Linked DNA regions of Homo sapiens. The protein of the gene in region 2 interacts with the protein of the main gene of each other region in a biochemical or structural test. Each region holds a gene or a part of one and is shown on either strand. Other genes may lie near its edges. The genes, in order: ZYX, TES and VASP.

Region 1 (3,650 bases), about 27 Mb from region 2:
GCACCGGACACTCCAGGGCCACGCATCAACTCCACAGAGCATGCTCGGACATCGCCCCCATGGGACAGGGGCACGCAATGGCGTGCACACACGCGCACACACACCTACCCGGCCTGCCTGCTGCTGAGCAGCCCCTGTCAGCGTGAGGATACAACACAGGCAGGAATTGCAGGTTAAACCCACTGAGCTGTCTGCAAGAACCCAGCCCCACCCCCACACAGAGACCCTGTCCCTCGAGTGAGGGGCCTCTGAACTACCTCACTCAGGTCCCTCCCCAGCAGCCTCAGAGAAGGTCCAAAGGCCACCCCCTAGGCCAGCCCAACCTTCCCATTTAGGGGATCCCGGGGACTGGAGTGGGGGGTGGATGTTAAGGACAGCGCTGCCAGTAACCCTGAGAGGTAACCCTGAGAACTCCGGGAAGGGCTGTCTGACCTGCATCAGCACTGCCGGGAGACACGCCCACAGGAGCAAGTGCACTGGGTGGGTCTTTTCTATGTCTGGAAAAGCCTACCCAGGACTGTGGCCCCATCACTGAGTGTGCTACCTGCAGATGCCTTCATTCCCATAACACCTGGAACCTCCAAAGCCCCCCTGCTACCTCCTCCCATAGCCCCTCTCCCCTCAGCCCTGGCTTCACTGCCCCTCACCCCGACCCCCATCTGTACCCAGAGTTGCGTCCTTTCTGCCCAGTGAAGCATGCGTCCATATAAGTCCAACTCTCCAGATCTTAGCCATTTTCCCTTAAGATCTTAGCCATCTTCCCTTAAGATCCTACCATCTCTTAACTGACTCGTTCCCTGGAACACTCACTTCAACTTTGTCTCCTCCAATCTTCCCTTCCTGGCCTCTTGGGGACACAGTGAAGGGGCTCAGTCAGTCCTTGCTCTCCAGTGCCATTCTAAATGCCTGGCTCCTCCTTCAGAAGCACAGAATCCTCATCTGCATCACCTCCCATGGGTATCCCCATTCATCAGGACACTCTATCCAGAACTGCCCCCTCTGCCAGCCTGCACCAATGCCACCGCTTCAAACCAAACTTCCGTCCATCTCAGTCATCATCCATCATGGGACATCCTTGACCTCAGATTTACCTCCAAGTCTCTTGCCAGCCATTATCTGCCTCTCCTCTTCCCCATCCACACCTACTACATGAACCCAGAAAAGCCTTAGTTGCCCCCACCCGCAACCCACCCCTGGACTTTGTCCACCATGCCCCAGCCTGGTCCCATGACCATCTAACTCCTACAGGGTTCACTGTCCCTCCGGGCACCTGCAGCCACCCGCAGCTATCCGGCCCAGTCTCCAACCCCAAGTCACACCACCACCCTCTTCCTGTTTCTGCTTCCAAGCTGCAGAAAGCAGTGGAGAGATCACTGAACACTGCAGCGTGAGCTCACAACACTGCAGCACCCGCGCGACCTCCAGCCCAGCCTTCCCCACAGCAGCCGTTCCAGACCTCTCCATCTCCTGAGCCCCCACCTGCTTCGTCCCTTTGCTCGCACCGTGACCTCACCTCCCACATGGTTGAGGACATGGAAGCCAGCCAGCTTAAGCTCCCTCATCGTCCTTCCTATCCACGCTGCAACCACTCTGTCCTTGCTGTCTGGTATGCCTCTGGGGGAGGAGACATCACCAAGATCTCCTCCAGGGACCGAAGCAGCCTGCCCCTGCTCTCCCACAACACTCACCCTCCATCACCTGCTTCCCCGGGTTACACACGTACCTGAGCCCTTCTCCCCTAACTTGCAAAAACCACATATGCTACACCACAGACTCAAACACACACACCCTCACACATACCCACATACCACTCACATGCACACACACATACCAGACCACACACATACACCACTCACATACACTCACACATATACCACACCACACACACACACTCACACATATACCATACCACACACACACACACCACTCACATTCAGATAATACCACACCAGGCCAGGCGCGGTGGCTCACACCTGTAATCCCAACACTTTGGGAGGCTGAGGCAGGCAGATCACTTGAGGTCAGGAGTTCGAGACCAGCCTAGCCAACATGGTGAAACCCCATCTCTACTAAAAAATACAAAAATTAGCCAGGTGTGGTGGAACGTGCCTGTAATCCCAGCTACTTGGGAGGCTGAGACAGGAGAATCGTTTGAGCCAGGGGGGCGGAGGTTGTAGTAAGCATGGGCGACAGCCTGCACTCCGTCTCCAAAAAAAAAAAAAAAAAAAAAAAAAAGATATACCACACCACACGCTCACACACACCACTCACATATATACACATACGCCACTTGTGTGTATTTGTAAGAAAGTATGTATGTGCACCTTCACTTGTGCAATCACACACCATACACATCACAGCCACACTCACACATGCACACACCTTCACTCACACATGCACACATGTACTCATATACACATACTTTCACACAATCACACTACACACATCACACGCCACTCATACATTCATGCTCACACATGCACATACACTCACATACACCATACCCACACCCACACACTAACACACACACACACGCCACTCATATATTCACATATGTGTATATATACACACACACACACCACTGACACACAGTCCTTCCCTTAGTCCTTTAAGACCAGGCTACACCAGCAGCCCCACTTCTCACCACCCACTCTCTCCTCAACTCCTCACATTGTGTTCCCACCACAGGGCACAAACAGGCCATCCCAAGACCGCTGATGATTTCCCAACAGTCTAATCTCTAGCCTTGAGTCCTCACTCCCTCAAATACCCCACTGAGGAGCTCAGCTCTCTTCTCCAAGTGCACCCTGACTCTCCTCCTGACTCTTCTTCCCGCACCTCCTGGTCCCCGCTGTCTGCACTCCCTGGGAAGCTCCTCCGCTCCGACCCTGACCCTCCAGCGTCACAGTGTCACTGTGCCCCACTACCATGCTAGACATCTCTGGCCCTCTCCTGAAACCTAGCCCTGGATTTCTAGCTGAATGACGGCCCCAGCTGAAAGTCCTCCTGGGACCTGTTGCTCAAAACGTTGACAGCTGGACCCCTCCTCTTCCCGTCCAAACCATTTCCCCTTCTGGACTTCTCTATTTTGTCAGCAATCCTGCCATCCGCCCACACCCCATCTCCAAATCGTGCTGGAGACTTTTTTTTCCCTCTTCCCCTCACCCTTGTCTTCCAATTGCTCATCCCTTGCTAAGTCCTGGAGGCTGTGCCTTCCCAACAGCTCTAGCACACAGCTCTCACATGCACGGTTTAATTTTCATTGCAGCTAACATTACTATTGCCCAAGAGTGAATTCACACCCATCACTGACCTCCCTCGAATACACATCTCTGCTGGTGAAACTTTCCAGAAAGCTTCCAAAAACACTGCTTTCACCAGCCCTCCTGACCCACCCCACACCTACTCAAAAATCATGAATGCCTCTCCAGTGCTCAAGAGCTCCTTGGGTGAGCCACTTCACCTCCTACACCCTCCAGCCCCGCTTGCCTCTCCAAGTATAGCTCTATCATTTTCCTACAGGAACCTTCCACTTTCTGTTCTCCAAACATCCCTCTCCTCTCTGGATTCTTACGTCCTGCCCATCCTTCGAAGCCTTTCCTAATTTGACTCCCCGAGTTGACTCCCTGGTCTGAGTGCCTGTGACTCAC
Region 2 (3,650 bases):
CCTGTGATTTTTTAAAATTACCCAAAACACACATTTTCAGTTGCAATTTACAAAAAAGAGATAACTAATGTTCAATTACACATGAAATTAAGAAAATTAAGCAAAAAGATAATTAGTACACATAAATGGTATAGAGAATTAAAGTCTGGGGTTTCATAAAATTTCATTTTACTAATAATTTGATTACCATTCATTCAAAATCTGACATGTAATCACAGGTCGAATCTACTGTTCCCTAATTCCTCAAAAATCTAAAATTGGCCCAGGCTGCGCCAAGGGCCTGGGGACTGCAGAACCCTTCAGGGAGATGATGTGCTTCACCACTTCCTGCCTGCCATTTGATCTTCCCATGTTCCTAAACCTTTAATATTTCAAAGAATTCTTATTTCCTTCAATCCCTCTTCTTATTTGTACACAGGATGTAAAAGAGCTAATGACACCTGTTGTAATGAGCTCTCTGCAGGAGTGTCCTATGAATCTGACGGATGTGAATTCTGGGGGTAACTATGGAGTTCTAGTGACTACACAGAGACAAAGTAGGTGCATCTGCCATGTTTTTTCCTTCCAGGTACTTTTTTTTTTTTTTCTCAGAAATGTTGTTTGGAGTTGAGCACTTGATTTCAGGTCTAAAAATAATTTGTATTTTCTCTCTTTAAGATGAAAAGATCTAAGCAGATCAATGCCCTGAACTAGATAACCTTCTCCAAATTTTATATAATGTAGCATGCTGTGTGGGTAGCTCTCTTTGCTGTTAGCTGGAATCTGTTCTGGCAATGGATATGTATGCTCATTTTAATATTAGGCAAAGGCCAATGGTATATCCCACTGAGAAAGTAAACATAAAAGAAATGATGCTACACACACACACACACACACACACACACACACACACACATATATATATATTTTTTTTGAGACGGAGTGTCGCACTATCAATCACCTGGGCTTGGGGTGCAGTGGCAGGATCTCGGCTCATTGCAACCTCCACCTCCCAGGTTCAAGCAATTCTCCTGCCTCAGCCTCCCAAGTAGCTGGAATTACAGGCACCTGCCACCACGCCCAGCTAATTTTTTTGTATTTTTAATAGAGACGGGGTTTCACCATGTTGGCCAGGCTGGTCTCGAACTCCTGACCTCATGATTCGCCCACCTTGGCCTCCCAAAGTGCTGGGATTACAGGCGTGAGCCACCATGCCTGGCCAAAATGATGCTATGCTATAAAACTAAATAATTTGAAAATTCTTTTATTTAAACAAATCATATCTGTGGTTATACCCTGCCATTGATTAGAAACAATGTAATACAGAGAAGCTTGTAACAGCTAAAAAAAGAAAAAAAAGCAGTTTCATCTGTTTCAATAAATTTTTATTGAGCACCTATGTTGTCCTAGTGTTGGGAACAGAATAGAAAAGGCAGATAAAAAAATCCCTGCCCTGATGGAGTTACATTCTAGTCCTTGAGACTAAAGGTCAGACAGCAGCAAAAAAAAAGGTATACATTATAATACCTTTAGTCTGTAGAAAAACTGTTGCAACAATATTCATTGAAGCAGTTTTTAGCTAAATAATGTATCAGGTTACATGGTGATTTGACGTCTTGTTCCCTAGGTAAAGGAATGACCATGGTAACCCCAAAGCGAGAAATATTAAGAACACGAGTCAGTCACTCAAACATTTTCTAAGTGCTGACACTGAAGATATAGAAAGCAAGATATAAGGCAAGCTCTACCCTCCAGCTGCTTACAGTCTAGTGAAGGAGACAGATGAATGATATTCACACACACACACACCCCCACACACCCACCCACACACACACCATTGGGAACATGGAGAGTCTGGAGGAAATGGTGGAGTTTGGGCATAGTGAATCAGGAAAGGTGTTCCGAAAAAAAGTTAAACCTAAACTGAATCTAAAGGAATAAATGTGTAGGTACAGTCAGGTAAAACAGGGAAAAGTACGGTGTATTAGAAAAACTATTAGGAGTAAGCAAAAGACAACAGTGTGTAAACTAGAAAATGATGGTGAACGTGTGGAAATGTATGATTTGCGTTGGATAACTAGTAGAAGGGACAGGAGAGGCAAGAAGGGGCCAGATCTATCAAAAGTTTAATAATTTGCATTTTAGGAAGATAATTTTCCATCATTATGGTGGGTAGCTTTTGAGCAAGATGAATGAAAGTGGAGGAACGAAATTTGAGGCCACTGCAATAGTCAAAATAACAACAAAAAAAAAGGTCTAAAGTAGAATGGTTGTAATTATAAGAATGTGAAATATATTGGTGAGGCACAGTTGATAGAGAATGAATAACTGTATCTGGGGCAATGGGTGAACGCTGAAAATTGGCATTGACATAAAAACTTGTTACCTTATCTTCACAGTACCACACTCTTATAACTATATATAACTATATAAACCATATGTAATTTCATTCCTTAGCCAGGAGTCCCTTTTACTTGATAGCTCAGGGGACCATTAACACATATGTGTTTTGCTGCATATAAAGAAGTAAATGTCTATTTGGATACTCCTGGATTATACACTTTACCATCTATGGTCAACTTTTTACCCTTTATCTACATTACCATCACTTGGCCATTATACAACAGCAGCTCTGTGTAAGCAGAGTAAATGCAAGAAAAAATATACTTTCACATTGGAATGTTTGGCCCACACAAAAATCTAAATACGCAGGCCAAGTTTTGTTATGCTAAATCAATTCAATGAGGGTTTAAGAAATAGGTATCTTACAATCTCCAGGTAGCAAAAACAAAATTCCAGTGGGTGGTCCAATAACACAAACAGAAAGCATCATATTCAAATAGAGCTAAAGAATATCAATAGCCCCTAGACACCTTTATTGAAATGGAATCTGATTGCTAACCATGAAAATAAAACAATCTCATTCCCATTAAGAATTTTTTTAAGTGAGGATTTTATTATTAAGCAGTACCTATAATTGATATTGTAAATTTCACAAGTAGAAATCTTGAGGTGGCTCATAGTCAATGCATGTATTGTTTTTGAATTGCCTTGATTTTAACACCCTGTGGTAGGAATAATTTGCTTTCTACTTAGGAGGACTGCTTTCTGTTTCCCATTTGTAAGAGGCTTTAAGAAAAGCATAAACTCAAGTCCTAAAGCAGGCTGAGGCAACCATATCCTTAGAACACTTCTCACCACAGCGTGATTCTTCACATAGCAGGGCTTGCACACGGGCTTGTCATTGACCATCACGTATATCTCCCCAGCTAGAATGCTATCACAGTCAAAGCAGCAGAAGTGTTTCAGGTGCCAATTCTGGTTTTCTGCCTGGGTATACTCATTGCTGAATATCAGCTAGGAAGAAGATAAAAATAAAGATGGATTTTTATATAATAAGAGATTTATATCTGTAACAACATACTTTCTCAGGGTCTAAAGTTTGAAAATGATAACCTAAAGCTTGAACTTATGCTATCACTTAGTTTAGTCTAAATCAATCTTTTATATTTCTAGTCTTTCATTTGTCAACCCAATTAACACAGACAGAATGAATGATATCAGAAGTTTATTTTTTAAAACTTCTTTGGATGTAAACAGAGCAACTGCTGTTTGGTCAAGTCTTGTTGCCTTCTAGGTAAAGGGACCATATGAGGGTCTAAGAGGGCACC
Region 3 (3,650 bases), on a different chromosome or scaffold from region 2:
CCTCAGGTGATCCACCCGCCTCGACCTCCTAAAGTGTTATTATTACAGACGTCAGCCACCACACCTGGCCCCTCATGGCAGTTCGAACAATGATACTATTACAACCTTGTGGCCTCCCCACCCCGGTACTCAGTTTATAGATGGGGAAACTGAGGCACAGGAAAGTTAGGCAAGGTGCCTATTAAACTCAAACAGGGCCAGGCGCCGGGGCTCATGCCTGTAATCCTAACACTTTGGGAGGCCAAGGCAGAAGGATCGCTTGAGCCCAGGAGTTTGAGAACAGCCTGGGCAATATGGTGTAACCCCGTCTCTACAAAATATACAAAAATTAGCTGGGTGTGGTGGCATGCGCCTGTAGTTCCAGCTACTCTGGAGGCTGAGGCGAGAGGATCGTTTGAGCTGGGGAGGTTGAGGCCGCAATGAGTCATATTCTTGCCACTGCACTCCAGCCTGGGTGACAAAGTGAGACCCTGTCTCAAAAAAAAAAAAAAAATAGAGATAACATGCTTTCCGTGTTCTTAATGAAGAAAAAGAAAAAAAAAAAGGAACGTGCTTTCACTGTGAAAACTCTTAAGATAATTCAGATAAGCCAAATGAAACCGAAGCTGCAACATTTATCTTCCTATTCACTTATGGGAAACTGAGGCCCACCAGGAGGAAGGGACTAGAGTAGCCCCATCCCCGACAAAAGAAGATTTGTCGTTTGGAAGGGTGGTGTATATGTATCATAGGTTTTATGGTATAAGGAGGGTATGGGCTAAGTCTTGGGTTCAGGGGACAGTGAAGGGAAGGGTAAGACTGCAAGTTTTGTGAAAACCGGATTCACCATGCTTGATTACCTCTGGTGATGGGAAGCTCTCTCCTTCATGTGGAGCGTGTACCAAGTTACAGTTCCTGCGTTTAGGGCTTTTTGTCCATTATCTCTTTTAATCCTTACAATGAACCCAGTGAGTTATTGTTTCCAGGGCTGGAAACTGAGTTTCAGAGAGGCAAAGCCACACAACAAGGAGGCAACTTGAACCGTCTTTTCATCCGCCATGTGCTAGAGTTTTCCAAAATGTGGGGACTTGCAGGGAGGAGTGGGTCCTGGGCTGGCTGGAAAATTAAAGTGTTCTCATGTCCAATGGAGGGTTCTAGACTTCGGGAAAACACACTGGAAATGGGCAGAACTCCTTTCCATCTCACAGCCCCCGCACCCCCGTTTTATGGCTATGGGATTTTCGTTCTGGCTTTTGTGTAGTTTACAGTTTTATTTATTGAACTTAAGTAGTGAGTTAGGTTTTTATAGGTAATTTCAACCCATGATAAGAAAACAAATAATAAGCAGTTTGAAATACTTACTGAAATTATTGAAATGGTGGCTGGGCCTGGTGGCTTATGCCTGTAATCCCAGCACTTTGGGAGGTCGAGGCAGGCAGATCACCTGAGGTCAGGAGTTTGAGGCCAGCCTGGCCAATGTGGCAAACGCCCAAACCCCATCTCTACTGAAAATAGAAACATTAGCCTGGCGTGGTGGCACACGTTTGTAATCCCGGACACTCAGAAGGCTGAGGCAGGAGAATCGCTTGAACTCGGGAAGTGGAGGCTGGGAGGCTGAGGCAGGAGAATTGCTTGAACCTGGGAGGTGGAGGCTGCAGTAAGCTGAGATTACACCACTGCCAGCCTGGGTGCAGAGTGAGAGACTCTGTCTCAAAAGATAAATGGTACAAAATATTTGTTTCTTCCCTCCCCAGTTCCTGAGTTCCCCTCAATGGAGGCAGCCACAGTTAGTGTCTTGGGAAACAGTCTCTGCATATATCACCACTCTGAGTGCAGATATATTTATATATGCTCCTCACTGTTTTTTTTTTTGAGATGGAGTCTTGCTCTGTCGCCCAGGCTGGAGTGCAGTGGCGCGATCTCAGCTCACTGCAACCTCCACCTCCCAGGTTCAAGCAATTCTCCTGCCTCACCTCCTGAGTAGCTGGAATTACAGGCACGCGCCACCACGCCCAGCAAATTTTTCTATTTTTAGTAGAGACAGGGTTTCACCATGTTGGTCAGGCTGGTCTCAAACTCCTGACATCAAGAGGTCCGCCTGCTTCGGCCTCCCAAAGTGCTGGGATTACAGGCTTGAGCCACTGCGCCTAGCCTACCTTTTTTGTTTGTTTGTTTTTGTTTTTGAGACGGAGTCTTGCTCTGTCCCCCAGGCTGGGGTGCAGTGGCGTGATCTTGGCTCACTGCAACCTCCGCCTCCTGGGTTCACGTGATTCTCCTGCCTCAGCCTCCCAAGTAGCTGGGATTACAGGCGCCCGCCACCACGCCTGGCTAATTTTTTGTATTTTTAGTAGAGACGGGGTTTCGCTATGTTGCCCAGACTGGTCTCAAACTCCTGACCTTGTGATCCGCCTGCCTTGGCCTCCCAAAGTGCTGGGATTACAGGCATGAGCCACCGCACCCGACCTTTTTTTTGGTTTTGTAAAGCCTCTGATCAACACTACCTTGTACTTTGGCTTTTAAAAATTTCAATTTAGCTCTGCTTCTTCATCTTTAAATGAAGTTAAGAACTTGTGGGAACTTCGTTTCAACTATGAGCCCCTCTGCTTACTTGCTGTGTGATCTGGGGCAAGTGCCTTCACTCCTCTGTGCCTGCAATTCCCCCTTGTCAAAAGGGTGAGCGTCAGAGCCTATCCCATGAGGTTGTAGAGTCATGCAGCAGGGAAATTGGTGTCAAGCACCAAGAAGAGTGTCTGGGACCCAGGCTGACTGAGAAATGTTAGGTGTCCTAGGTAAAAGTTTGCCTTTTTTTGTGAGGGAGTCTTGCTCTGTGAGGGAGTCTTGCTCTGTTGCCCAGGCTGGAGTGCAAGTGACCTGAACAAGGCTCACTGCAGCCTCATCCTCTTGGACTCAAGTGATCCTCCTGCCTCACCCTCCTGAGTAGCTGGGACTACAGGCAAGCGCCACCACACCCAGCTAATTTTAAAGTTTTTTGTACAGACGGAGGTCACCATCTTGCCCAAGCTAGTCTCTCTCCTTTTTTTTTTTTTTTTTTTTTGAGACAGAGTCTCGCTCTGTCTCCCAGACTGGAGTGCAGTGGTCTGAGATCGGCTCACTGCAACTGCCTCCTGGGTTCAGTGATTCCCCTGCCTCAGCCTCCTGGGTAGCTGGGATTACAGGCATGAGCCACCATGCCTGGCTAATTTTTGTATTTTTAGTAGGCATAGGGTTTCACCATGTTGGCCAGGCTGGTGTCGAACTCTTGACCTCAAGAGATCCACCTGCTTTGGCCTCCCAAAGTTCTGGGATTACAGGCATAAGCCACCACACCCAGCCTTCCCAAGCCAATCTCAAACTCTTGGGCTCAAGTGATCCTCCTGCCTCAGCCTCCCAAAGTGCTGGGATTACAGGCGTGAGCCACCTCCCCTGGCCAAAGTTTGCCTTTTTTTACAGATGTTTCGTAACTATTGAGTCCCTACTATGTGTTGGACGCCATTCTAGGTTCTGGGGACACAGCAGTGAACAACTGGGACACAAATTTCTGCCTTTTTGGCAGCGGAGACAGACAAATATTGTGTTGGGCAGGGGTCACTGCTATGAAATGTGCAGCAGGGGATGAAAAGGAGAGAAGCGTTTCCAGCTAAGGGAGTGAGGGACGGCTTCTTGGAAGGGGT

The links.
Region 1: the proteins of TES (region 2) and ZYX form a complex in vitro, tested with the Homo sapiens proteins (one study listed by BioGRID).
Region 3: the proteins of TES (region 2) and VASP form a complex in vitro, tested with the Homo sapiens proteins (one study listed by BioGRID).

What each region holds. Positions count from the first base shown.
Region 1 is NC_000007.14:143,384,246-143,387,895, reverse strand, and holds part of ZYX (zyxin), read right to left. Parts: exon of another isoform or gene 2,511-3,650; intron 1-2,510. UniProt on the Homo sapiens protein: Adhesion plaque protein. Binds alpha-actinin and the CRP protein. Important for targeting TES and ENA/VASP family members to focal adhesions and for the formation of actin-rich structures.
Region 2 is NC_000007.14:116,252,004-116,255,653, reverse strand, and holds part of TES (testin), read right to left. Parts: intron 3,337-3,650; coding exon 3,178-3,336; intron 537-3,177; exon of another isoform or gene 1-536. UniProt on the Homo sapiens protein: Scaffold protein that may play a role in cell adhesion, cell spreading and in the reorganization of the actin cytoskeleton. Plays a role in the regulation of cell proliferation. May act as a tumor suppressor. Inhibits tumor cell growth.
Region 3 is NC_000019.10:45,510,456-45,514,105, forward strand, and holds part of VASP (vasodilator-stimulated phosphoprotein), read left to right. Parts: intron 1-3,650. UniProt on the Homo sapiens protein: Ena/VASP proteins are actin-associated proteins involved in a range of processes dependent on cytoskeleton remodeling and cell polarity such as axon guidance, lamellipodial and filopodial dynamics, platelet activation and cell migration.